Homo sapiens: one gene and its partners. The protein of the gene in region 6 purifies or fractionates together with the protein of the main gene of each other region. This does not show direct contact. Each region holds a gene or a part of one and is shown on either strand. Other genes may lie near its edges.

Evidence for each region.
Region 1: the proteins of KIF11 (region 6) and TPX2 purify together in Homo sapiens (affinity purification with western blotting, with the first as the bait; one study listed by BioGRID). This does not show direct contact.
Region 2: the proteins of KIF11 (region 6) and IRAK4 purify together in Homo sapiens (affinity purification with mass spectrometry; one large-scale study listed by BioGRID and IntAct). This does not show direct contact.
Region 3: the proteins of KIF11 (region 6) and ANKLE2 purify together in Homo sapiens (affinity purification with mass spectrometry; one large-scale study listed by BioGRID and IntAct). This does not show direct contact.
Region 4: the proteins of KIF11 (region 6) and RBM45 purify together in Homo sapiens (affinity purification with mass spectrometry; one large-scale study listed by BioGRID and IntAct). This does not show direct contact.
Region 5: the proteins of KIF11 (region 6) and CEP350 purify together in Homo sapiens (affinity purification with mass spectrometry; one large-scale study listed by BioGRID and IntAct). This does not show direct contact.
Region 7: the proteins of KIF11 (region 6) and FLYWCH1 purify together in Homo sapiens (affinity purification with mass spectrometry; one large-scale study listed by BioGRID and IntAct). This does not show direct contact.

What each region holds. Positions count from the first base shown.
Region 1 is NC_000020.11:31,780,790-31,784,289, forward strand, and holds part of TPX2 (targeting protein for Xklp2), read left to right. Parts: intron 1-1,459; coding exon 1,460-1,601; intron 1,602-2,915; coding exon 2,916-3,132; intron 3,133-3,500. UniProt on the Homo sapiens protein: Spindle assembly factor required for normal assembly of mitotic spindles. Required for normal assembly of microtubules during apoptosis. Required for chromatin and/or kinetochore dependent microtubule nucleation.
Region 2 is NC_000012.12:43,779,451-43,782,950, forward strand, and holds part of IRAK4 (interleukin-1 receptor-associated kinase 4), read left to right. Parts: intron 1-2,856; coding exon 2,857-3,040; intron 3,041-3,500.
Region 3 is NC_000012.12:132,744,833-132,748,332, reverse strand, and holds part of ANKLE2 (ankyrin repeat and LEM domain-containing protein 2), read left to right. Parts: intron 1-1; coding exon 2-195; intron 196-312; coding exon 313-501; intron 502-3,500. UniProt on the Homo sapiens protein: Involved in mitotic nuclear envelope reassembly by promoting dephosphorylation of BAF/BANF1 during mitotic exit.
Region 4 is NC_000002.12:178,125,937-178,129,436, forward strand, and holds part of RBM45 (RNA-binding protein 45), read left to right. Parts: intron 1-47; coding exon 48-240; 3' UTR 241-248; intron 249-3,422; exon of another isoform or gene 3,423-3,460; 3' UTR 3,461-3,500. UniProt on the Homo sapiens protein: RNA-binding protein with binding specificity for poly(C). May play an important role in neural development.
Region 5 is NC_000001.11:179,957,810-179,961,309, forward strand, and holds part of CEP350 (centrosome-associated protein 350), read left to right. Parts: intron 1-3,500. UniProt on the Homo sapiens protein: Plays an essential role in centriole growth by stabilizing a procentriolar seed composed of at least, SASS6 and CPAP. Required for anchoring microtubules to the centrosomes and for the integrity of the microtubule network.
Region 6 is NC_000010.11:92,596,130-92,599,629, forward strand, and holds part of KIF11 (kinesin-like protein KIF11), read left to right. Parts: intron 1-729; exon of another isoform or gene 730-1,160; intron 1,161-3,500. UniProt on the Homo sapiens protein: Motor protein required for establishing a bipolar spindle and thus contributing to chromosome congression during mitosis. Required in non-mitotic cells for transport of secretory proteins from the Golgi complex to the cell surface.
Region 7 is NC_000016.10:2,942,931-2,946,430, reverse strand, and holds part of FLYWCH1 (FLYWCH-type zinc finger-containing protein 1), read right to left. Parts: intron 3,105-3,500; exon of another isoform or gene 2,947-3,104; intron 1-2,946. UniProt on the Homo sapiens protein: Transcription cofactor. Negatively regulates transcription activation by catenin beta-1 CTNNB1, perhaps acting by competing with TCF4 for CTNNB1 binding. May play a role in DNA-damage response signaling.

The DNA of each region.
Region 1 (3,500 bases), on a different chromosome or scaffold from region 6:
TTAACATAGTTTTTAACTTTCTCCATTTGATTTTCTGTAAGATGTGGTCTTGATGCTTTTATATTGATTTCATAAAATTGGGAGTTTTCACTTGGTCTTCTTTTGTTATTTATTTATTTATTTATTTTCCTTCTTGTTTTGCTTTTTAGAGACAGGGTCTTGCTCCGTCACCCAGGCTGGAGTGCAGTGGCGTGATCATGGCTCACTTCAGTGTCCAACTCCTGGGCTCAAGCAATCCTCCTGCCTTAGCCTTCCAAGTAATTGGGACTATATATAGGTGCATGCCACCATGCTTACCTAATTTTTATATTTTCTTAGGAGACAGGGTCTCATTATGTTGCCCAGGCTGGTCTTGAGCTCCTGGCCTCAAGCAGTTCTCCTGCTTTGGCCTTCTAAATTGCTAGAATTACAGGTTTGAGCCATTCTGTTCAGGCTTTACTTGGTCTTTAGGAAGGCCTTATATCTTTTTTTTTTTTTTTTTTTTTGAGACAGAGTCTCGCTCTGTCGCCTAGGCCAGAGTGCAGTGGCGCTCATTTGGCTCACTTGGCTCACTGCATGCTCCGCCTTCCAGGTTCATGCCATTCTCCTGCCTCAGCCTCCCGAGTAGCTGAGACTACAGGCGCCTGCCACCACGCCCGGTTAATTTTTTGTATTTTTAATAGAGACGGGATTTCACCGTGTTAGCCAGGATGGTCTCGATCTCCTGACCTCGTGATCCCCCTGCCTCGGCCTCCCAAAGTGCTGGGATTACAGGCGTGAGCCACTGTGACCGGCCAGGAAGGCCTTATATCTTAAAGCTGGAATAAGCAAAAATTTTTTGTGTTAATAACAAGCAAAATAATTGGCATTGTCAATAGAAAGTATAGGCCTGGCCAGGCACAGTGGCTTAACGCCTATAATCCCAGCACTTTGGGAGGCTGAGGTGGGTGGATTGCTTGAGCCCAGTAGTTCAAGACCAGCCTGGGCAACATAGTGAAACCCTGTCTCTACAAAGAATATAAAAATTAGCTGGGCATGGTGGTGCATGCCTGTAATCCCAGCTGCTTGGGAGGCTGAGGTGGGAAGATCACCTGAGTCCAGGGAGGTTGGATTTGTAGTGAGCCTTTATGCCCCTGCACTCTAGCCTGGGCAACAGAGTGAGACCCTGTCTCAAAAAAAAGAAAGTCAGTCTAGGCCCGTGCAGTGATAAGGAACCTGTCAGACATGGATGGATTTTCAGTTCAGAAGATGACAGTAGAGTTTACCCAAAGGCTACCTTAGTCATACCCCTCAATAAAAGAGGAATAGGGGAGAAGTAACTGAATGTTGGTTGGTTTGACCAATGTAAGCTGAGCTGACTGTTGTGGGCCCACCACTCTGTGGTTGGTTTATCCCTCTCTGGGCTACATAGGTGAATCACCACTTACAAGTAAACTGGGTCTTGCGGATCTAGATGAACATCTGTCATCTCTGTTTACAGACCTGTTACCCTCCAAATCTTCTGTGACCAAGATTTGCAGAGACCCACAGACTCCTGTACTGCAAACCAAACACCGTGCACGGGCTGTGACCTGCAAAAGTACAGCAGAGCTGGAGGCTGAGGAGCTCGAGAAATTGCAACAGTAAGTCCCACTGGCAGTATCTGAGGAAGAGTTCCACGAACCTGCCTACTTTATTTTCAGTTCTGTTAGGGTGACAGTTGCTATTTTTCTTTCCGTAAAAATTTATGGCATTTGAGTAGTAGGCTCTGCAGGCTACGCCCCTGCCTATATGATTTAAGGACTATAGTGGGAATATGGAGATGTTCTGGAGTATAAACTGGTAAAAATTGAATCCAGGCTGGGTGTGGTGGTTCACACCTGTAATCCCAGTACCTTGGGAGGCCGAGGCAAGAGGATCACTTGAGTCCAGGAGTTTGAGACCAGCCTGGGCAACATGGTGAAACCCCATCTCTACAACAAATACCAAAAAAAAATTAGCTGGGCATGGTGGCATGCGTCTGTAGTCCCACCTACTAGGGGGCAGCCTGAACCCAGGAGGTCAATGCTTCAGTGAGCCAAGATCACGCCAATATACTCCAGCTTGGGTGACAAAGCGAGACTGTCTTGCACATACACACATACACACACACACACACACACACACACACACACACACACACACAAAATCTAATCCAGAGGTTGCAGTAGAAGAACTTACTTAGGATTTCAATTAAGGAATGCCCTCTAAGGTTAAGTTAGGTAGATCCCACCCTTTTGTGACTCCCCAAGGGATTGTTACAGCTATTATTAGTGGAGGGAAATGGAAACTTAGTGTGATTCGTAGCATTGGAGTTTATTTCCTGTATCCTTCTTCCATTCCTTTTTGTGCTTCTTTTGAGGAGGGGGAGCTTCTTCTGTGAAGTGAAGCCTCAATTCTTAAGTGGTAGGGATGTTAGGACTGTCTGATTTATTCTTTCTTCTTTTATTCTTTTATTATTTTTTATTTATTTATTTTTTTTGAGATGGAGTTTCGCTCTTGTTGCTCAGGCTGGAGTGCAGTGGTGCCTCTAAGCTCACTGCAACCTCCGCCTCCTGGGTTCAAGAGATTCTCCTGCCTCAGCCTCCCTAGTAGCTGGGATTACAGGTGTGCACCACCACGCCCAGCTAATTTTTGTATTTTTAGTAGAGATGGGGTTTCACTGTGTTGGCCAGGCTGGTCTTGAACTCCTGACCTCAAATTATCTGCTCACCTTGGCTTCCCAAAGTGCTGGGATTACGGGCATGAGCCACCGTGCCTGGCCCATTGTTTTTCGTTTTTATTTATTTTATTCTGTTGTCCAGTCAATGGGAGCATAATCTTAATGATTACTATTCTTTGTGGTTGGCTTACTTTGTTTGTGAAGTTTTCATTTTATTAAAATTTTTTTTGTGGTTATTTAAATTTTCACCTTACAGATACAAATTCAAAGCACGTGAACTTGATCCCAGAATACTTGAAGGTGGGCCCATCTTGCCCAAGAAACCACCTGTGAAACCACCCACCGAGCCTATTGGCTTTGATTTGGAAATTGAGAAAAGAATCCAGGAGCGAGAATCAAAGAAGAAAACAGAGGATGAACACTTTGAATTTCATTCCAGACCTTGCCCTACTAAGATTTTGGAAGATGTTGTGGTAAGGTTGAGGCTATGTGTGCTGGCAGAAGTGTACTGCTCATGACCAGATATCCACCCATTCACACAAAAGTTTGGGTAGATATTATGAGCAGGGCATCATATTAGGAACTGCAGGTGATAAAGAGACTTATCGGAAGTGGATTTTGCTTTTAGTTAACTCAAAGTCTGGTATGGGAGACAATATATGTGTGAATAATAGAAAATGGACAGAAGTGTTCTGAGAGAGATGACAGTTAAAATAGGAATTCAGAGGAGAAAATGGTTTCTTCCAGATAGAAAGTTCAGGGTGTGCTTTGTAGAGAGGCACATTTGACCTGAGCCTTGACGATGTACTGTAGTAATAGTTATTGTGTTGCTATTGTTGTC
Region 2 (3,500 bases), on a different chromosome or scaffold from region 6:
TATTTAAGTTTTGCAAAGATGATTTTAACTCTAGTGTAGAGAACAGTTTGTAAGAAGAGGCAGTTAGTAGGCTATCATAGGTGGCAGTTCATAAGAAGAGAGGGGAGCAGATTAGAAAGATTAAAATGGCAAAACTTGTTGATACCTTGGCTATGCAGGGGTTCAGGAAGAGCGAAGTATCAGGAATGACTCCTGGAATAATGGCATCCAGACTTGCATTCTGGAATGATTATGGCATGATTCACTTATGTAGAAAGGACTGAAAAAAGACTTGGTTAGGTTGGGGTTAGAGAGATGGTTAGAAAATGTGAATTCTCTTTTGTACATGTTGTGTTTGGGGTGCTTTTAAGATGTAGTAGTAGAGATGGTAGACAGTGTGATATACAGATTTGGAGCTGGAGGTCTGAGCTGAAGATATAAATGTGTATTACTTGCATACAGGTGATAATTGAAGTGACTGTATTCACTTGAGGGGAGATGTAGATTAAGAAAAGGTCACAAGATTAAGTCTTGGGGAACCCTAAGACTTAATGGCCAAATAGAAGAGATGATCACAAAAAGGAATCTAAGGAAGTACACATACAGAGAAGGGTAAGATGAAAACCTGGAGAGTGTGGAGTCCCTGAAAACGAGGAAAGAAAGTGTTTCCCAAGAGGGAGTAGTCAAAAAGAGTCAAGGGCTTTAATCATTGGATTAGCATCACCATGGTCTTTGGTGACTTTATGGAAACCCATTTCCAGGTAGTAGTTGGTTTAGAAATCACATTGTAGTTGAGAGAGTGAGAGCTAGAGAACTGAGATAGGAGTATAGACAAGTCTTTTAAGACATTTTACTAGTGAAGGGGACAGCTAGAAATAGATAAGTCATTCAGGAAACTTTTTTTAAGCTGGCAGAGATTAAGCTGTGCTTATGTGCCTATAGGAAGGATCCAGATTAAAAGGGAGAGGATAGTATGGAAGAGAGAAATGAGATGATGTGTTCAGTAGGGTTACTGAGAATGTAGAAAGCAGCTCAAGCAGAGGAACTGACCCTAGATGAGAAAAGAAACGCCATCTCCTATCCTTCATGGATTGGTACTTTCTTGTGTTCTTATATCATTGTCTCTTTTCTCCCTGTATGTTCTTTTTTTTTTTTTTTTTGAGACAAGTTTCACTCTTGTTGCCCAGGCTGGAGTGCGATGGCGCGGTCTTGGCTCACTGCAACCGTCGCCTCCCGGGTTCAAGAGATTCTCGAGCCTCAGCCTCCTGAGTAGCTTGGATTACAGGCATCCACCACCACGCTCTGCTAATTTTGTATTTTTAGTAGAGATGGGGTTTCTCCATGTTGATCAGGTTGGTCTTGAACTCCCGACCTCAGGTGATCCGCCCGCCTTGGCCTCCCAAAGTGCTGGGATTACAGGCATTAGCCACCCGCCTGGCCTCTCTCTGTATGTTTTTGCTGAGTGATATTATGTTAATTTTAACTGCTACTTATATGTGAGTGTCTTTTGAATCTGTATTATTAGCTTCCAATCCTGGATTTTTAGTATCCCCGTACCAAAAACACTTCATCTGGGTATCCCACAGTAGCCTTTAAGTCAGAACATTAGAAATCAAACTCATCAGCTCTTCCCAACCTAAAGTCTTCCCACATTTCCTTTCTGATCCAGTGAAGTCACTGTTCATTCTGTCTCTCAAACTGAACACGTTCTCATTCTCTATATCATGCTAATTACAAAATTCTGTTGTGTGAGCCTCAAAATTTTCACTTTCCATTTATCCCATGTTATGACCATTTAAACCCTCATTATCTCCCATTTGCTTTGTTACAAACCTTCGTAGTCAACCTAAATCCAGCCTATCAGTTCTCATCTATTCACTACCACACTACTAGGTCATGGTCCTAAAAGTTAAGTCTAATAACATCAGTTTCCTACTGTGAAAACTTTAGCTGGTATCCTGTTGCTCACAGGATAAAATGCAAATTATCTCCATGTTTCTTGGACACTCGTTCCTTGAAGTTGACCATGTATACCATATCATGTTTTTGTCACTTTGTACCTGTTACTCCATTTGCCTGGAGTGCCTTTCTTTCCCTCATATAACTATTAACTTCTAATAATCCTTCAATACTAAGCACACTTTTCACCCTCTGTTTGAAATTTTTCCTACTTTTTCCAGGCACATGGTTGTTCTCTCAGCATTTTGTACCTAATATTACCATTGTTTTAAAAAATTATTTATGCCTTTGTCACAGACAAGATTTTAAGACTCCGCCATGCCCAGCAGTGAGCTTAAATACTACACAACATAGGGAGTTCTCAATAAGATTGTGTTGAATTAAAGTATGAAAGCACATAATGAATTAATTGAGATATTTTGGCCATATTTTTTTCTCTTCAAAAGCCAGATAGTACAGAACAAAAGAATAAAGAAATTCATAATTGAGATACTTTGGTTGGAAATTTGTTTTGAAATGAATTGATACATACTAAGAAAGGAATTAATAAAGGTGCCTTGGAAGACTTTGTAGTAATTTACCCTATAATAAATGATTTGTGGAATAATGAAAATATCTCTTACTAATGTAGACAGTTTTATTTCATTTTTATTCTCCTAAATGTTTTCCTCAAGAAACATAAAAAAAGAGGACAGTTGCTTCTCTTTAGCTATAATCTGAATTCTAGGTTTATTTCTATAAACTTTAGGCTTTTATGATGCATACTATAAAACGTTACACTCTGTAAATATGTATGTACATATGCATGTATGCATATACATATATACATGCATACATACGTACATCTAGCTAAGGAACTGTTTGACTTTTTTGGGGTGGGAAAAACATTTTTTTCTTCAAACTTTACATTTTTTTCAGTGCAAATATCTTACTGGATGAAGCTTTTACTGCTAAAATATCTGACTTTGGCCTTGCACGGGCTTCTGAGAAGTTTGCCCAGACAGTCATGACTAGCAGAATTGTGGGAACAACAGCTTATATGGCACCAGAAGCTTTGCGTGGAGAAATAACACCCAAATCTGATATTTACAGCTTTGGTGTGGTAAGTTCCGTATACATAATTATTAAAAATAATCATTCTGCTATAATTGTGAAAATGAAGAGAATATTATTTAATACACCCATCTTGTTTATCTCTCTTATGTAACAATATAAGTTTTTCACATTAACCTCTACTTATACCAGAAAGTTTATAAAAACTTCTTCCAATGTGTAAAACTTTTGAGTTGATTTTTGAAATGACTACAAGAAATGATTTTCTTGCCATCTGTCTTTATGAATTAGCATGACACCTAATGCATTAAATGAATCATGTCATACAGTATATACTTTAGTCTCACATTTTTTGACATTTACTAATCTACCTCTCTATTCCCAATAACTTTTAAGATAGAGCAAGAGATAGGTGTGGGTGGTTGAAGAAGCCGGGGGCTTTTTCTTCATTTTATTTTTTCATACGTGTTTCATATATGGAAATTTAACTTCATAGCACTGAAAATAAG
Region 3 (3,500 bases), on a different chromosome or scaffold from region 6:
GATGGTTTGTGCTTGTCGGAATCAGAAACAGTCAACAAAGAGCGAGCGAACAGTTACAAAAATCCCCGCACGCAGGACCTCACCGCCAAGCTTCGGAAAGCTGTGGAGAAGGGAGAGGAGGACACCTTTTCTGACCTTATCTGGAGCAACCCCCGGTATCTGATAGGCTCAGGAGACAACCCCACTATCGTGCAGGTAGGTCTCGGCGGTTCCCTCGGGCAGGTGTGCGGTCCCGGCCGTTCCATCGCAGCACTCGCACAGGGCGTGTCCACACATCAGATAGGAAGCTCAGAGCATGCGGTTCTCTTTCAGGAAGGGTGCAGGTACAACGTGATGCATGTTGCTGCCAAAGAGAACCAGGCTTCCATCTGCCAGCTGACTCTGGACGTCCTGGAGAACCCTGACTTCATGAGGCTGATGTACCCTGATGACGACGAGGCCATGCTGCAGAAGCGTATCCGTTACGTGGTGGACCTGTACCTCAACACCCCCGACAAGATGGTGCGTGCACACCCTCCACTCACGCTTTCTTTATTTAATTGGTTAAAAGTCTTTCCCCAAAAGAATGCTTTATCGACAAGTTACTCATTAGTATAATAACTTTGGGGAAAAGATACATCAATTACACCCCTGCAACCTGCCTTCTTACCACATCCCACTGGACAAAGGGCACCGAGCGCTGGGGTTCCCTGGCCCCTGCATTGTCGTCGTGTGTGCGATGCTGTCCCCGAGGGTGTCTGAACTGTCTGGGGACACGGTTGTCAGAGGACATTTCCTCTGCCGAACAGGACACCTTGAGCTGAGCAGCACTTCCCCTCCCGGGAGTGGCAGAGCTGTGCACACCACAGGCAGGCCCTCAGTGTCCTACCAAGAGCCACTGAGGCACAGAGCTGCCCCTGCAAACCATGCTGCCTGACACGCAGGGCTGTGGAGAGAGAGAGAGGCTGCCTGACACGCAGGGCTGTGGAGAGAGAGAGAGGCTGCCTGACACGCAGGGCTGTGGAGAGAGAGAGAGGCTGCCTGACACGCAGGGCTGTGGAGAGAGAGAGATGCTGCCTGACACGCAGGGCTGTGGTGTGAGAGAGAGGCTGCCTGACACGCAGGGCTGTGGAGAGAGAGAGGCTGCTGGGGTGCGACTGCTTAGAAACAGGAACGATCTTGGTAGCTCCGGAGAAAAGGTGACAGCAATCCTGGCCGATGCCCATGCCCCACCCTCCACCTGACCTGTGGGGTCATTTCATCTGAAGTGCAGCCAGCAGGCGGGTTGGAGTCACTGATGAGTGCCCCCCGGGCCAGGCCCATGCAAGGCAGCACTGGGAAGCGGGCACAGCTCTTCTAAAGGGTGCTAAAGACAGGCTTTTCCTTCTCTTAGCCCCTCCCACCCCTGGGAGCCCAAAAGTCCTTCAGGGCAGAGTAGGGAGCCAGGGGAGCTGCCCTGCTTGAGAAGAGAAGCAAGTTTTATACACTGGGATGGAGCGTGTTAGTGAAACCAACACCCCAACTGGAACAGGCAGTCACACAGGCCAGGTGTAAAATCCCACACAGTACTCACAGCCATTGAGCAACCCTCATTTATATGTTTATGATAAATAAAGCATGAGGTAATGTGAGGCTTGAATTTCAGCTTGAGTCCAAAGAAATAATATTCTCTCACTAGGAGGCTAAAGCTGCTTTGCCTAATTTCGATTTTTGAAAAGTCCACTGCATTAAAAAAAAATAATGAATTTGCTTTTCATTAAAGCTAGATTAGTACAACAATTGGGCAGTTGTTGATATTCAGTTTACTTTCTGTGGGCAGGAAATGGACACTTCTTGTTTAGCATTTCAAGATAAAAACTCATGGAACAGGTAGGGCTTTCTGGGTGATTGCATTCCTTCTGTGAGTTAGGGAAGGAGGAGGTCAAAAATGCCACTTATGCGTAGGACTCTTCAATGCTTCAACATTCTGATGGGCTAACCTGATTCTTTTTTTTTTTTTTTTTTTGAGACAGAGTCTTGCTCTGTCTCCCAGGTGGGAGTGCAGTGGCACAATCTCGGCTCACTGCAAGCTCCTCCTCCTGGGTTCAACTGATTCTCCTGCCTCAGCCTCCCGAGTAGCTGGGACTACAGGCACCCGCCACCATGCCTGGCTAATTTTTTTGTATTTTTAGTAGAGATGGGGTTTCACCGTGTTAGCCAGGATGGTCTCCATCTCCTGACCTCGTGATCGGCCCGCCTTGGCCTCCCAGAGTGCTGGGATTACGGGCGTGAGCCACCGTGCCTGGCCACTAACGTGATTCTTAAAGGGAGCCTGGGCTTTGGCTCAGTATTTCAAATCCTCCGCCCTGTCCACTTCCTGTACCCCTAGGAAGGACAGCACAGTTATCTGTTTCACCTACAAACTTTAGTATATAACTATGTACACAACTGTTGAAATTCATGTGGATGCGGTAGCCACGTCTCCTTGTGGATGGGCAGGACTATTCTCAAAGCCGGCTCTGCGTGTGCGTCCTGGCTGGCCGCTTTGTTGCTCAGAGCTCCGGCTGTGATGCTGAGGGTGTGTGTGTGTGCTCTGCAGCTGAGCGTAAGCGACCACAGGCTTAGAGAGGTGCGGGATCCGACGGGCTCGTCGCCCCTCCCTGCTGAGGAAGGGAGATTGTCCTTGCTGTTCTCTGTCACCCACGACCTTAGACTTCATGGGCCCAACTTGGTCTTCAAACGACTTGAAAGTTGCAAATTTCCTTACGTCTCCGAGCTTCCTACTGATGGCAGAGCCCACCATGGACAGGGCCGCTGAGGTCTCTGTCTTGGTTGAGGTCTTCTGTCTTGCTGTGGGAGCATTTCCTGAGTCTTGCAGAGATCCGGGTGGGCCACTTTCTCATTCCACTTCCACATTTCTCAGAAGTCTTCACATAGGCGTTAGAGAGGGTTCCGTTTCAGCCTCCAAGGCAGAGAGGCCCAGCCTCCTCTCAAGCTCTCCACAGTCCCCCTCCTTGGCTGCCAGCACTGGTGTAGAGTGACAGTTTCCTCATCCGTCTTGGTAGCTGGGCCCTGAGCTCTTCCTCCTCAGCCTCTGTCAGACCCTCAACAGCAGTAGCCTGGGCAGCCCCACCTGTGTCAACAGGGACATTGGTCATGGAGTTGGACGGCAGGCCTTTGTGAGGAGAATTCGGGTTGACATCTTGGCTGGCGGCGTCTGTGTTCAGGCAGTCATGGGCCGCGGTGCGGGCGCTGTGGGAGCCGAGTGATGGGCTGTGGGAGCCGAGCAGGCAGCAGCAGGGTTGCTCACTGCACGCACGCTGCCCGGGAGCTGCCTCTGCTGGCTGTTTTAATAGGAATGGTAGCCAGTATTGTAGTTTAAGAAAGATTTGTGAGGCCGGGTGCAGTGGCTCACGCCTGTAAACCCAGCACTTTGGGAGGCCGAGGCAGGCGGATCACGAGGTCAGGAGATCGAGACCATCCTGGCTAACACGGTGAAACCCCGTCTCTACTAAAAATACAAAAAATTAGCTGGGCGTGGT
Region 4 (3,500 bases), on a different chromosome or scaffold from region 6:
GTTGTATTTATCAATTTTGGTTGATTATTTTTTTCACTTTGTTTCAGTCGTTTTGGTAACCTGATCGAAGTTTACCTTGTGTCAGGAAAAAATGTGGGGTATGCCAAGTATGCCGATAGAATAAGTGCTAATGATGCCATTGCCACTCTACATGGAAAGATTCTGAATGGGGTGAGACTTAAAGTTATGCTGGCAGATTCGCCAAGAGAAGAATCTAACAAACGGCAAAGAACTTACTGATTCTTGAGGTAAGCCCTTTTTAATCTGAATTTTAAAACATATTGAGTAAATAGTATATGAGGAATATGTGTAAGTACTTTATAAACTTTTCTTTTTAGTGATTTAGAAGTTGTCAGTTAAAAGAGCTTTGCAACTATTTAAACTTTAAAAATTGTTGACATTTACTGAAGAATGTTTTTGCCCTTCTGTAAAATAAAATCACATTTCAATTTAGAAAGATAAATAATTGTTTTTTGTTTGTGAAATCTTCGATTTTAAGAATTCAACTTTTTATTATGTGCTTATATAAACTTTTAAGTTGTCCGGTGCTAGAATAAGGATTGCTTTAAAAAAAAATTGAAATACTTCTAAAGATTTTTAACTTGAAAAATTGGTGTCTTGAGTTATGAATTGAGGTAATTTATAACAGTCGTTTATAAAGATAATGTTTTGACTTCTCTCTAATGAAATGCCTAAAAAGCAATATCAAATAATATATCATTTTTGGACCTTTTGAACCTAAATGTTGGTGTTTTCTGGACTTGTATTTGTGAGTTTGTGCATTAAAACAATACATTCAGAAAATATTCTCGTATGCATATATGTATTTTTTAAGAAAACCTGACAATTTACCAAAAACTCTTTATTGTAAATTTTGATACATACAGCCATATGAATTCCATTTCCTATTTTATTTATTAGTTTTCAAAAATCAAACTACAATTTATTTGACTGTGACAGTGAGTTTATATCTGTGTGGTTTGGGGAAACATTCCTTAAAGTTTGACTTTTTTTTTCCCCCGAGACGTCTCGGTCTGTCACCCAGGCTGGAGTGCAGTGGCGAGATCTCGATTCACTGCAACCTCCACCTCCTGGATACAAGTGATTCTTCTGCCTCAGCTTCCCCAGTAGCTGGGACTACAGGCGCGTACCACCACGCCTGGCTAATTTTTTGTATTTTTAGTAGAGGCGGGGTTTCACCGTGTTTCGATCTCCTGACCTCATGATCCGCCCGCCTCGGCCTCCCAAAGTGCTGGGATTACAGGCATGAGCCACTGCGCCTGGCCTAAAGTTTGGCGGTTTTTATTCTGTAAAATAATTCTGAATTTCAGGGGAAGCCGTTTTCCTGTTCCCACACACTAACTTTCCAAGTCTACTATAGGTCAAATGTAGTAGATGGCAGGCACTTTGAATTCAGTTTGAAGTTACTGGCTTGAAACCTTTATTTTTTTCACTTAAGATTTTCTTTCTGACCAATTGTGTGAGCTAGCACGTATGAGAATGATTCCTGCCAGGCCTCACTGCTGATGACCCTTCCTCTCCTAGAACAGATCACATGATTAGTTCCTCCTTCATAGCTTCATAGAAGGCATTTGACAAGAGAAAGTGCCCATTGGGCCCATAATCCTAATTTTTAAATCTTTTTAAATGTTTTATTAAATGACAAAACCACTCTCATTGTACCATACATTGTTAGCAATTTAACCCTGGATATATTAAATTGGGAGTGGAAAAGAATTAGCAAGCATTTTTTCCTGTTTATGGATAAAATGTTAAGAATGAATTCTGTTTGGAGAAGCTATTCTCTAGCATGCAAAAAATGTGTTTTTTCTAGTCTGTGAATATTTCAATAATAGGAAATAAATAGTTCTTGCTTTTACTCAATAAATCTTTGTTCTTAAAAAGGACAATAATATAGACTTTAGACTTCTCAGTATAGAAAAGTATATAAATTATTCTTGTGGTTGAACCTTTTCTAATGATTATTTACATGTTAAAGAGAATATTGGGCTTAAAATAAAAAGCCATTTAACTGTGACTGGGCTGGTCTCTACGCCCTTTTTTTTTTTTTTTTTTTTTTTTTTTTAAACACAGAATCTTAGTCTGTCACCCAGGCTGGAGTGCAGTGGCCTGATCTCAGCTTACTGCAGCCTCTGCCTCCTGGGCTCAAGCAGTCCTCACAGCTCAGCCTTGCAAGTAGCTGGGACTACAGGCATGTGCCACCATGCCCAGGTAATTTTTTTTGGTAAGACAGGGTTTTGCCGTGTTGCCCAGGCTGGCCTTGAACTCCTAAGCTCAAGTCATCTGCCTTCCTCGGCCTCCCAAAGTGCTGGGATTACAGGCATGAACCACTGCGACTGACCCTCTTTGCCTTTTTGAGGCCCAGTTTTCTCATAGGGCTTTTGAGAGACAATGAGTCAACAAAATGTAAAATGAAAAAAAGGCTTTGCAAGTCTAAACTAAAACTCTTGCATTTGTAGCTTCAGTGAAACCTTTGAGATGTCCTCTTATCTAAAATAATGACATCCAAATGATCAGAAACTAAAAGTATAATGATATAAAACTACCTTGTGGCCAGTTGGTACTGTGAGAACTAAGCTTTATAAATACCACATTTTTCCCTTAAACTCATCCAATTTCCTACATCAGAGGAATTGCATTTTCAGCATGGCTGTTCATAAAAATTTTAATCTATCATTTTTCCCTTTTTTGAACTGTTACGCATATTCAGGGCAGAGATAAAATAGGGTCAGGTTAGTTGAAAATGGCTGTTTGGATAGGATACGATTAGCTACACGGTTTTGAATTTCTTCTAATTGCAGCATGGCTTTTTTTATTTTTGCTGCGGATCTCCTATTTACAATGGACTCCATTATGAGATTCTTCTTCTTTGTTGGTGTATTAAATAAACATATTACCTTATTTTAAGTTTCGATAAAATACTGTGGAAGACTTTGCCAAATTTTATATGATTGTGACAAGTTTTTTGGGGTAGGTGCACTTTTTTGTTTGTTTCTTTAATTTTTAAAAGGCTGCAAACACAGCTCATGAAGGCTGGTTTCTTTTATCTCTGAGGTATGGGCCTGGGATTAAGTGAGTCATGCCTAGGAAATAGAAGCAACTGATCCAAGGATATAACATTGAAAGTAGTTGAATTCTATTTTGAGATGGGTCTGATAACCACAATGTAATTCTCTTTCTATTTGAGGAAAATATAAATTTTAGTATTTCAGAGCATCAGATTTTTTGTTAATTCACAACACTTTCCCTCTAGAAATTCAGCACCTGCATCGCCCTTCTTAGTAAGTTTGGTTTTATTTGGGGGCAGCTATGATTAAGCAGATAACATTGGGTATATTGAAATAAAGGAACAATTCCTAACATTTTAGGAATACTACAACAGCTATTTCCTTTCCTTTCAGGTGATGATTTTCATACTTGTGTTGTGTTCTTTCTACAGAACAAAGACTAAATAATGACATAATCCTCAGCTGACTGAC
Region 5 (3,500 bases), on a different chromosome or scaffold from region 6:
GCAACAGGTTACGGTAATTTAAAGAAAATATAAACTTTAAGACCCTAACCTGTTATACTAGTACTATAATTATAGCCTTGTAATAACTTTAAGTCACTTCTTAATCTCAGTATTGGGAGTTTAAATTCTTCAAGGCCAGCTAGTCCAATTCCCATATTTTATACATAAGAAAACAGAAGGTTGTATAGGGGCGATATCTCATGCATAGTTGATTTCATAACTGGGAGAAGAATCCATTGCACAGCTGCTAAGTCTACATTTGTTTAATATGTCAGATAATTATAAAATCAGAACATAATTGTGATCAACTTGGCAGTCTATTCAGTATTAATTAAAAACTCAAAATGGGCCTTTTTTTTCATGAATCCAAAGTGTTAACTTAAAAATGAATCTGAACCCTTTCCTCTGTAGTTGGGACTATAAATTGATACCATTGGAGCAACCTTCTGGAAGGAAATTTGGCATTCCCTATCAAGATTAAAAGTATATATATTGTTTGATAGAATCATTTCCTGCTTAAAATTTATGTTACATAAATTTTAACAGCATAGGAATTGTATAAGAATGTTTATATTAGCATTATTTCAAGATGTCAATAACATTTATAAATAATTTAAAAATGTCCTAAATGTCTGTTGGTAGGCTAATAGTTAAAAGTCTAGTATTTTTATGCTGTGAATTACTGTGCAGTTGTTAACAGGTTTCAGGGTATCTATATTTACTTCATGAGCAGCAGCTGAGCATATCCTTCAGCTCCTGGAACCATGCGGTGGACCTTCTGGATTCAAAACCTAACTGCACTACTTTCTAGCTGTGACTCTTGGCGAATTACTTAAAGTCAACTATAAATTGGATATACTAGTAGTTCTCATGTTACAGGGGTACCATGAGAATTAAATGAGTTAACAGTTAGGCCCTAAATAAGCATTAATAAGCGCCACATAAGTGTTTGCTGTTACAATTATGTATTGACTTGGAAGAATGTTCATGATATAAAATTAAGTGAAAAAATAAGTTGCACTATACTATAGAATATGATTTATTTAAAAAACACATAGACAAATGTAGTTTTGTTTTCATTTTGCATGTGAATAGAAAAAGGTCTATAAGGATAGACATTAAACATGTTATTCCTGAGGGAGTGGATGACTTTTCTTTTTTACTTTAGACATTTTTGTATGGTTTTATTGTAAGAATCACTTTTATAATTTTTGAAACTTTTTTCTAAAAAAAGGAAGTAAATTTTTTCTTCTATTAAATAGTGATATAAATGTATTTTTGAATGTGATTTTTAGAGATCTACACATTTCATCAACAGAGTGTCTCATAATTAGATCCTGTGTCAAAACATTTGTTGATGGAAGGGCTGGGACTTGGTGGCTCACGCCTGTAATCCCAGCTCTTAGAGAGGCCGAGGCAAGTGGGTCACTTGAGGTCAGGAGTTCGAGACCGGCCTGGCCAACAAGGCGAAACCCATCTCTACTAAAAATACGAAAACTAGCAAGGCGTGGTGGCAGGCCTGTAATCCCAGCTACTGGGGAGGCCAAGGCAGGAGAATTGCTTGAACCAGGGAGGTGGAGGTTGCAGTGAGCCAAGACTGCCACTGCACTCCAGCCTGGGCAACAGAGCAAGACTCCATCTCAAAACAAACAAAACTTTTGTTGGCTGGGTGCGGTGTCTCATGCCTATAATCCCAGCACTTTGGGAGGCTGAGGCGGGCAGATCACCTGAGATTAGGAGCTTCAGACCAGCCTGGCCAACATAAGGAAACCCCATCTCTACTAAAAGTAAAAAACTAGCTGGGCATGGTGGCAGGCTCCTATAATCCCAGCTGCTGGGGAAGCTGAGGCAGGAGAATTGCTTGAACCTGAGTGGCAGAGGTTGCAGTGAGCCAAGATTGCACCACTGCACTCCAGCCTAGGTGACAGAGGAAGACTCTGGCTCAAAACAGACAAACAAACAAAAAAACTTTTGTTGGCAGAAGGTTGAAATTTAGGAAAATCTATAATAAATATATTTGTTTTTCTCCTAGCTTTGTAGCCTTAAGTCTTATTTCTTACTTTACAAAGTAAACCCGTAGGCTAGATCAGTGTTTCTTAAATCCAGTATTCCTAAACTGTGCACTGAAGTAAATCCTCACTTAATGTTGTCCATAAGTACTTGGAAACTGCAACTTCTAAGACCCCAAACACCTCTAATATTAAACATTGAAATAAATGGGTCCTATGCATACATTTAAGAAATACTAAAAACAAGATAATTACCCACTTATTTCAGTTCAGGATGGCAGGTGGCTGGAGCCTGTCCCGGCAAGTAGGGCACAAGATAGGCTGCCATTCCATTGCAGGTAGCATTTACAGACACACACACACCCACCCACCCACCCACATTCACTCAGACTGGGACCATATAGACATGCCAATTCATGTCAGTTCACCTAATGCGTGCACCTCTCTGATGTGGGAGGAAACTGGAGCATACGGAGAAAAGCCACACAGACATGGGGAGAACATGCAGGCTCCACATAGATGGTAGCCCTGGTGGGGAAATCAAAATTTTTTTCTCATCAAAATTGTGAAGAAATGATATTGAATGAAACTATGTTATGGAGGACCTGCCGTACTGTGGAGCACCATAGTAACTCACCTGGACACTATGCATTATTTGAGAAATTTTAATGGAAACAGCAATATTGGATAGCTGTGGGATATTTGACATCTATAGGACACTACTCAAACTACCAGTTTGAGATACCACACAAGAGATTGTGTTCCATTTTTTTTGATGACACTGTGTCTTCCAAACGCTAGGTTTTGGGAGTTTGCTGTGATAAAAAGCAAGTACTATGCAAAAATCAATTTGGAACAGTAAATGAAGGTGGTGGTGTCCAAAATGATTTCAAGATTTGAGAACTTGTGTAATATCTAGTAGGTACACACATCCTATTAAGTAGTTGTGGTAATTTAGTAATAAAAATATTTATTTCAATTTATACATATTTATTTTTCGATCTGCTACTAAGTTGGTAGGCTATAAATACTTTTTAGGTTGTGGACTGAACTACTTAGTAAATGGAACTGTTAGGTATTTTTTTGGCCTAGGGGTTCCATGAAAAAAATAACTGGCATACTGAGGGGTCTGTGAACTGAGAAAGTTTAGGAACCTCTTGAACTTTTGACCAGGACACCTATATATATTTTCCATGTTCTGTGCTCCCAAAGGTTGATTTTTTACATTTATCTTTATTTTTTATTTTTTTAAATAAAAAGAATAGATGTGTGTTATACGTGTATGTGTATACATATAATGAATCAAAAGTTTCACTTTTCAAAGTTTTACTTTAAACAGCCTCATGGCCAGGCGCGGTGGCTCATGCCTATAATGCCAGCACTTTGGAAGGCCGAGGTAGGCAGATCATTTGAGGTCAGGAGTTCAAGACCAACCTGGCCAACGTGGTGAAACACCATCTCTACTAAAAATACAAAAAAATTAGCTCGGCG
Region 6 (3,500 bases):
AGGAGCTGGGACTACAGGCGCCTGCCATCTCTCCCGGCTAATTTTTTGTATTTTTAGTAGAGACGGGGTTTCACCATATTAGCCAGGATGGTCTCCATCTCCTGACCTTGTGATCTGCCCGCCTTGGCCTCCCTAAGAGCCGGGATTACAGGCGTGAGCTACGGAGCCCGGCCTTGAGTTACTTCTTACTTTTAGCTATTATGAATAATGTTGCTATGAATATGGGTTTTCAATTCTTTTGGGTATTTACCCAGAATTGTAATTGCTGGATCATATGATAATTCTATTTTAAAGTTTTTGAGGAACCGACAAACTATTTTCCACAGTGGCTGGACCATTTTACATTCCTACCAACAGTGCATAAGGGTTCCAATTTCTCCACATCCTCACCAACGTTTATTTTCTGTTTCTTTTTTTTTTTTCAAGTAGCCATCCATTGGGTGTGAGGTGCTATCTCATTGTAGTTTTGATTTGTATTTCCCTAATGATTAATGATGTTGAGCATCTTTTCATGTGTTTACTGGCCATTTTGTGTATCTTTGGAGAAATGTCTGTTTAAGTCCTTTGCCCATTTTTAAATTGGTTTGCTTTTTTGTTGTTGAGTTTTAGGAATTTTCTATATATTTTGGATATTTTCAGATACATAAACGGCAAAAATTTTTTCCCCATTACTGTGGTTTGCCTTTTTACTCATTGATACCGTGTGGTCTTTTCCTTTCTTTTTCTTTTTGGAACCAGTGCATGGCCTCTTTGTTGATTCTGTGTTTGGCCCCAGTGCAGCCTGTTCTGTGCTATGTGTCTGCAGTGCTGAAACCAGGCCTACCCAGCACCATACAGAAGTCCAGGCTGTAGATACCAATGCATGGGTCACATTTGATACCCAAATCTGTGTGTTCCTGGATCTCCAAACCAAAGTTTCCAGTATCTGAGAAGTTGTTCTTTCTTGATTCACACTCCTGCATCTTTAGACCTTTCTTCAGGGTTTCTTCTGCTTTGGCCCTTTGTGCAGTGGGTGGCAATCTTCACTTCTCCTGATGCCAAAGGATCTGACAATGTATTTGACTTTGGAGAACACAGGGGTCTGGCCTATGAGCTGCTCCAACACCTTGGCTGCTGGGGTCAGTCATCTCCAGTCTCCTCCATACAGATGTTGAGACAGAAAATCGTTCTGTCACCCAGGCTGGAGTGCAGTGGCACAGTCTCGGCTCACTGTAACCTCTGCCTGTCAGGTTCAAGCAATTCTTATGCTTCAGCCTCCCAAGTATCTGGGATTACAGGTGTGCACCACCATGCCTGGCTAATTTTTTGTATTTTTAGTAGAGATGGGGTTTCGCCTTGTTGGCCAGGCTGGTCTTGAACTACTGGCCTCAAGTGATCCACCCATTTTGGCCTCCCAAAGTGCTGGGATTATGAGTGTGAGCCCTCATCTGGCCAGAGTTCTCTTTTTTTTACCTTGATCTTGCACTATGATGGAGAAAAGGAAGATAAAGTCTTTTTTTTTCCCTTGGGTTTGTTTGTTTGTTTGTTTGTTTGTTTTTTGAGACGGAATTTTGCTCTCGTTGCCTAGGCTGGAGTGCATTGGTACGATCTTGGCTTACTGCAACCTCCGCCTCCTGGGTTCAAGCCATTTTCCTGCCTCAGCCTCTAGAGTAGCTGGGATTACAGGCATGCGCCACCACGCCTGGCTAATTTTGTATTTTTAGTAGAGATGGGGTTTCACCATGTTGGTCAGGCTGGTCTTGATCTCCTGATCTCAGGTGATCCGTCCACCCTGGCCTCCCAAAGTACTGGGATTACAGGCGTGAGCCCGTGCCTGGGCTATTTTTTTTTTCTCCCCTTTAAATATAGTATCTTGCTTTATTGCCCAGACTTGTTGTGAACTCCTGGACTCAAATAGTCCTCCTACCTCAGCCTTCCAGGTAGCTGGGATCACAGGGATGCTGTCTTTTGATACACAAACATTTTAAATTTTTATGAAGTCCAGTTTGTCTTTTTGTTTTTGTTCCCTGTATCTTTGGTGTTATATCCAAGAAATCATTGCCAAATCCATTGTTGTGAAGCTTTTGCCTTATGTTTTCTTCTAAGAGTTTTATAGCTTTAGGTCTTACATACATTTTTGATCCATTTTGAGTTAATATTTGTATATTGTGTTAGATAAGGGTCCAACCTCATTCTTTTGCATATGGATATTTAGTTTCCCAGCACCATTTGGTGAAAAGCTTGTCTTTTTCTGATTGAATGGTCTTGGCAACCTTATTAAAAATCATTTGCTCATATGTAAGAGGGCTTATTTCTAAGTGCTGTTATGTTCCATTGGTCTATAAGTCTGTCTTTATGTCAGTACCACATGGTTTTGATTATTGCAGCTTTGTAGTAAGTTTTGAAATCAGGAAGTGTGAGTCCTCCAGCTTTGTTCTTTTTCAAGATTGTTTTGGCTATCTGGACTCCCTTGGGATTCCATATGAATTTGAGGATGAATTTTTCTATTTTTGTAAAACACGTCATTGGGATTTTAATAGGGATTACATTGAATCTATAGATCACTTTGGGTAGTATTGGCATCTTAACAATATTAAGTCTTTCAGTTCATGAACAAGGGATGTGTTTCCATTTATTTATGCCCCTTAATTTCTGCCAGCAGTTTTTTTTTGTTTGTTTTTGTTTTGAGATGGAGTTTCGCTCTTGTTGTCCAGGCTGGAGTGCAGTGGCACAATCTTAGCTCATTGCAACCTCCACCTCCCGAGTTCAAGTGATTCTCCTGCCTCAGCCTCCTGAGTAGCTGGGATTACAGGTATGTGGCACCACGACCAGCTAATTTTTGTATTTTTACTAGAGACAAAGTTTCACCATGTTGGTCAGGCTGGTCACGAACTCTTGACCTCAGGTGATCCACCCACCTTGGCCTCCCAAAGTGCTGGGATTATAGGCGTGAGCCACTGCGCCTGGCCTCAGCAGTGTTTTATAGTTTTCATTTTATAAGTCTTTCACCTCCTTGGTTAAATTAATTACTAATATTTTATTCTTTTTGGTGCTATTTTAAATTGAGTTGTTTTTGTAATTTCCTTTTTAGATTGTTCATTCTTAGTGTATAAAAATGTAACTGGAGGCTGGACGCAGTGGCTCTCACCTGTTATCCCAGCACTTTGGGAGGCAAGGTGGGCCTCCCAACTCCTGATCACGAGATCAGGAGTTCAAGGCCAGCCTGGCCAACATAGTGAAACCCTGTCTCTACTAAAAATACAAAAATTAGCCATGCATCGTGGCGCGTGCCTGTAGTCCCAGCTACTTAGGAGGCTGAGGCAGGAGAATCGCTTGAACCTGGAAGGTGGAGGTTGTGGTGAGCCAAGATCGTGCCACTGTACTCCAGCCTGGGCAACAGAGTGAGACTCTGTCTCAAAAAAAAAAAAAAAGAAAAAAGAAACGTCGCTGGATTTTGCTTGTTGACTTTCTATCCAGCTACTTTGCTGAATTCACTTATTAGTTCTAACAGTTTTTTTTTG
Region 7 (3,500 bases), on a different chromosome or scaffold from region 6:
AGAATCGCTTGAACCTGGGAGGCGGAGGTTGCAGTGAGCCGAGATCTCACCACTGCAGTCCAGCCTGGGGGACAGAACGAGACTCCATCTCAAAAAAAAAAAAAAAAAAAAAAAGTACAGCCCACCTATACAGGGCATGAATTATGAATGGAGCTTGCAGGGTGGGAAGTTGCTGTGGGTGGGTGAGTGAACGTGGAGGCCTAAAGCATTAGTGTATGTCCTGCACACTTAGTATACAACACTCAACACTCAGGCTACACTCATTTTTAAACACTTTCTTCAGTAATAAATTAACCTAAGCTTACTGTAACTTGATGTTTAAACTTTTTGCTTTTTTTAATTACACTCAGTTTAAAACACAAATACATTGTACAGCTGTACAAAAATATTTTCTTTAGAACCTCATTCTACAAGCTTTTATTTATTTATTTTTTGACATGGAGTCTCGCTCTGTTGCCCAGGCTGGAGTGCAGTGTCGCAATCTCGGCTCACTGCAAGCTCTGCCTCCCGGGTTCACGCCATTCTCCTGCCTCAGCCTCCCGAGTAACTGGGACTACAGGCACCTGCCACCACGCTCGGCTAATTTTTTGTATTTTTAGTAGAGATGGGATTTCACCATGTTAGCCAGGATGGTCTTGATCTCCTGATCTCATGATCTGCCCACCTTGGCCTCCCAAAGTGCTGGGATTACAGGCATGAGCCACCGCACCCGGCCTCTATAAGCTTTTATTTTTAAGGATTTTAAAATTTTTAAGTTGGACTTTAATTTTTTGAGACAGTATTTTTTTTTTTTTTTTTGAGATGTAGTCTTCCAGGCTGGAGAGCAGTGGCACGATCTCGGTGCACTGCCACGATCTCAGTGCACTGCAGCCTCAGCTTCCCAAGTAGCTGGGATTACAGGTGTGTGCCACCATGCCTGGCTAATTTTTTTTTTTTTTTTTTTTTGAGATGGAGTCTCGCTCTGCCACCAGGCTGGAATGCAGTGGCATGAATGTCGGCTCACTGCAACCTCCAACTCCCTGGTTCAAGCAATTCTCCTACCCCAGCCTCCCGAGTAGCTGGGATTACAGGCACACGCCACCACGCCCAGCTGATTTTTGTATTTTTAGTAGAGACGGGATTTTACCGTGTTAGCCCGGACGGTCTTGATCTCCTGACCTCGTGATCCGCCTGCCTCGGCCTCCCAAAGTGCTGGGATTACAGGCGTGAGCCACTGTACCTGGCTAATTTTTGTATTTTTAGTAGTAGAGATGGAGTTTCTTCACGTTGGCCAGGCTGGTTTTGAACTCCTGACCTCAAGTGATCCACCCACCTCAGCCTCCCAAAGTGCTGGGATTACAGGTGTGAGCCACCATGCCCGGCCAAGGATTTGAATTTTTTGCTTAAAAACTAAGACACACACTATCCTAGGCCTGCACAGGGTCAGGGTCATCCATGTCACCATCTTCGACCTCCACATCTTGTCCCACTGGAAGGTCTTCAGGGACAATAATACATTTAGAGCTGTCATCTCCTATGACGACAGTGCCTTCTTTTGGATACCTCCAAAAAGTCTTGAAGGACCTGCCTGAGGCCGTTTTACAGTTAAAAAAAATTTTTTTTTTTTTTTGATACAGAGTCTCACTCTGTTGCCCAGGCTGGAGGGCAGTGGCACCATCTCAGCTCACTGCAACCTCCACCTCCCAGGTTAAGCGATTCTCACGCCTCAGCCTCCCAAGTAGCTGGGATTACAGGCTGGCGCCACCATGCCTAGCTAATTTTTGTATTTTTAGTAGAGACGGGGTTTCACCATGTTTCCCAAGCTGGTCTGGAACTCCTGACCTCAGGGGATCTGCCTGCCTCAGCCTACCAAAGTGCTGGGATTATAGGTGTGAGCCAATGCTGTGGCTGGCCTACAGTTGACTTTTTAAATAAGTAGGAGTATATTCTAAAGTAATGATAAAAAGTATAGTAAATAATCTAATAACATATTTATTATCATTATCAAATATTAGGTACTATACATAATTGTATGTGATCTTTTTTTTTTTTTTTTTGAGATGGAGTTTCACTCTTGTCACCCAGGCTGGATGGAGTGCAATGGCACAATCTCGGCTCACCACAACCTCCACCTCCCAGTTTCAAGCGATTCTCCTGCCTCAGCCTCCCAAGTAGCTGGGATTACAGGTGCGCTGTACCTGTAGCCAAGCCTGGCTATTGTATTTTTAGTAGAGACGGAGTTTCTCCATGTTCCCCAGGCTGGTCTGGAATTCCTGACCTCAGGTGATCCGCCCGCCTCAGCCTCCCAGAGTGCTGGGATGACAGGTGGGAGCTGTCGTGCTCTACTTTTATTTCTGAGACAGGTTCTCTCTCCGTCCGCTGGGCTGGAGTGTAGATGCATGATCACAGCTCACTGCAGCCTCAACCTCCCAGGCTCAGGTGACACTTCCATCTCAGCCTCCGAAGTAGCTGGGCATGTACCACCACACACAGCTAATTTTTAAATTTTTTTGTAGAGACGGGATCTCACTATGTTGCCCAGGCTGGAGTGCAATGTCGTGATCTTGGCTCACTGCAACCTCCACCTCCCGGGTTCAAGTGATTCTCCTGCCTCAGCCTTCCAAGTAGCTGGGATTACGGGTGCTCGCCACCACGCCTGGCTAATTTTTTGTATTTTGAGTAGAGACAGAGTTTCACTATGTTGGCCAGGCTGGTCTCGAACGCCTGACCTCAGGTCATCCGCCCACCTCGGCCTCCCAAAGTACTGGGATTACAGGCGTGAACCCCCGCGCCTGGCCTGCTTGTGGGGGTTTTCACGGATGCTCTTGATCAGGCTGAAGAAACTCCTTTTATTCCTAGTTTGTTGAATGTTTTTATCATGAAAGCGTGTTGGAGGTTGTCAAATGTTTTGTGTCTATTCAGTGATCACACGGTTTTTGTCCTTTTCTCTACTGATCTGGTATGCAGGCATCCCCATCACACACTAGGCTTGGTGACTGCACTTGAGGGACTCACAGGACTTAGCCTACCATCATACTAGTGGCTGGGATTTACTACGGTGAAAAGATGCGACGCAGAATTAGTAACAGGAAGATGCATTTGGGGTGAGGGCCGGAGGAAACCAGGTACAAGCCCCCAGAGTCCCCTCCCCTGGGGTCCCCTCCCGCAGAATGTGCTGAATCCTCCAGCCTCGAGCTGTGACATGTGCAAAGTGTTCTCTACCAGGGAAGCCTGCCTGAGCCCAGGAGTCCAGGGTTTTCACTGGGGGTTGCTCATGTAGGTACGTTGTGCCTGCGTGACTGAATATGGTCACCGAAATGCCAGGCTCAGAAGAAAAGCAAGTGTTCAGCAAATATCACATGATTTGTATAGAAAAGAGTGAGCAGTTGTTATTTGGGGATAGTATTGTATCCACATAGGAGCTCTTTACCAGTCAAGTTCCCAGATGCCAGCTGGGCGTGGTGGCTCATGCCTGTAATCCCAGCACTTTAGGAGTCCGAGGCGGGTGGATCACTTGAGGT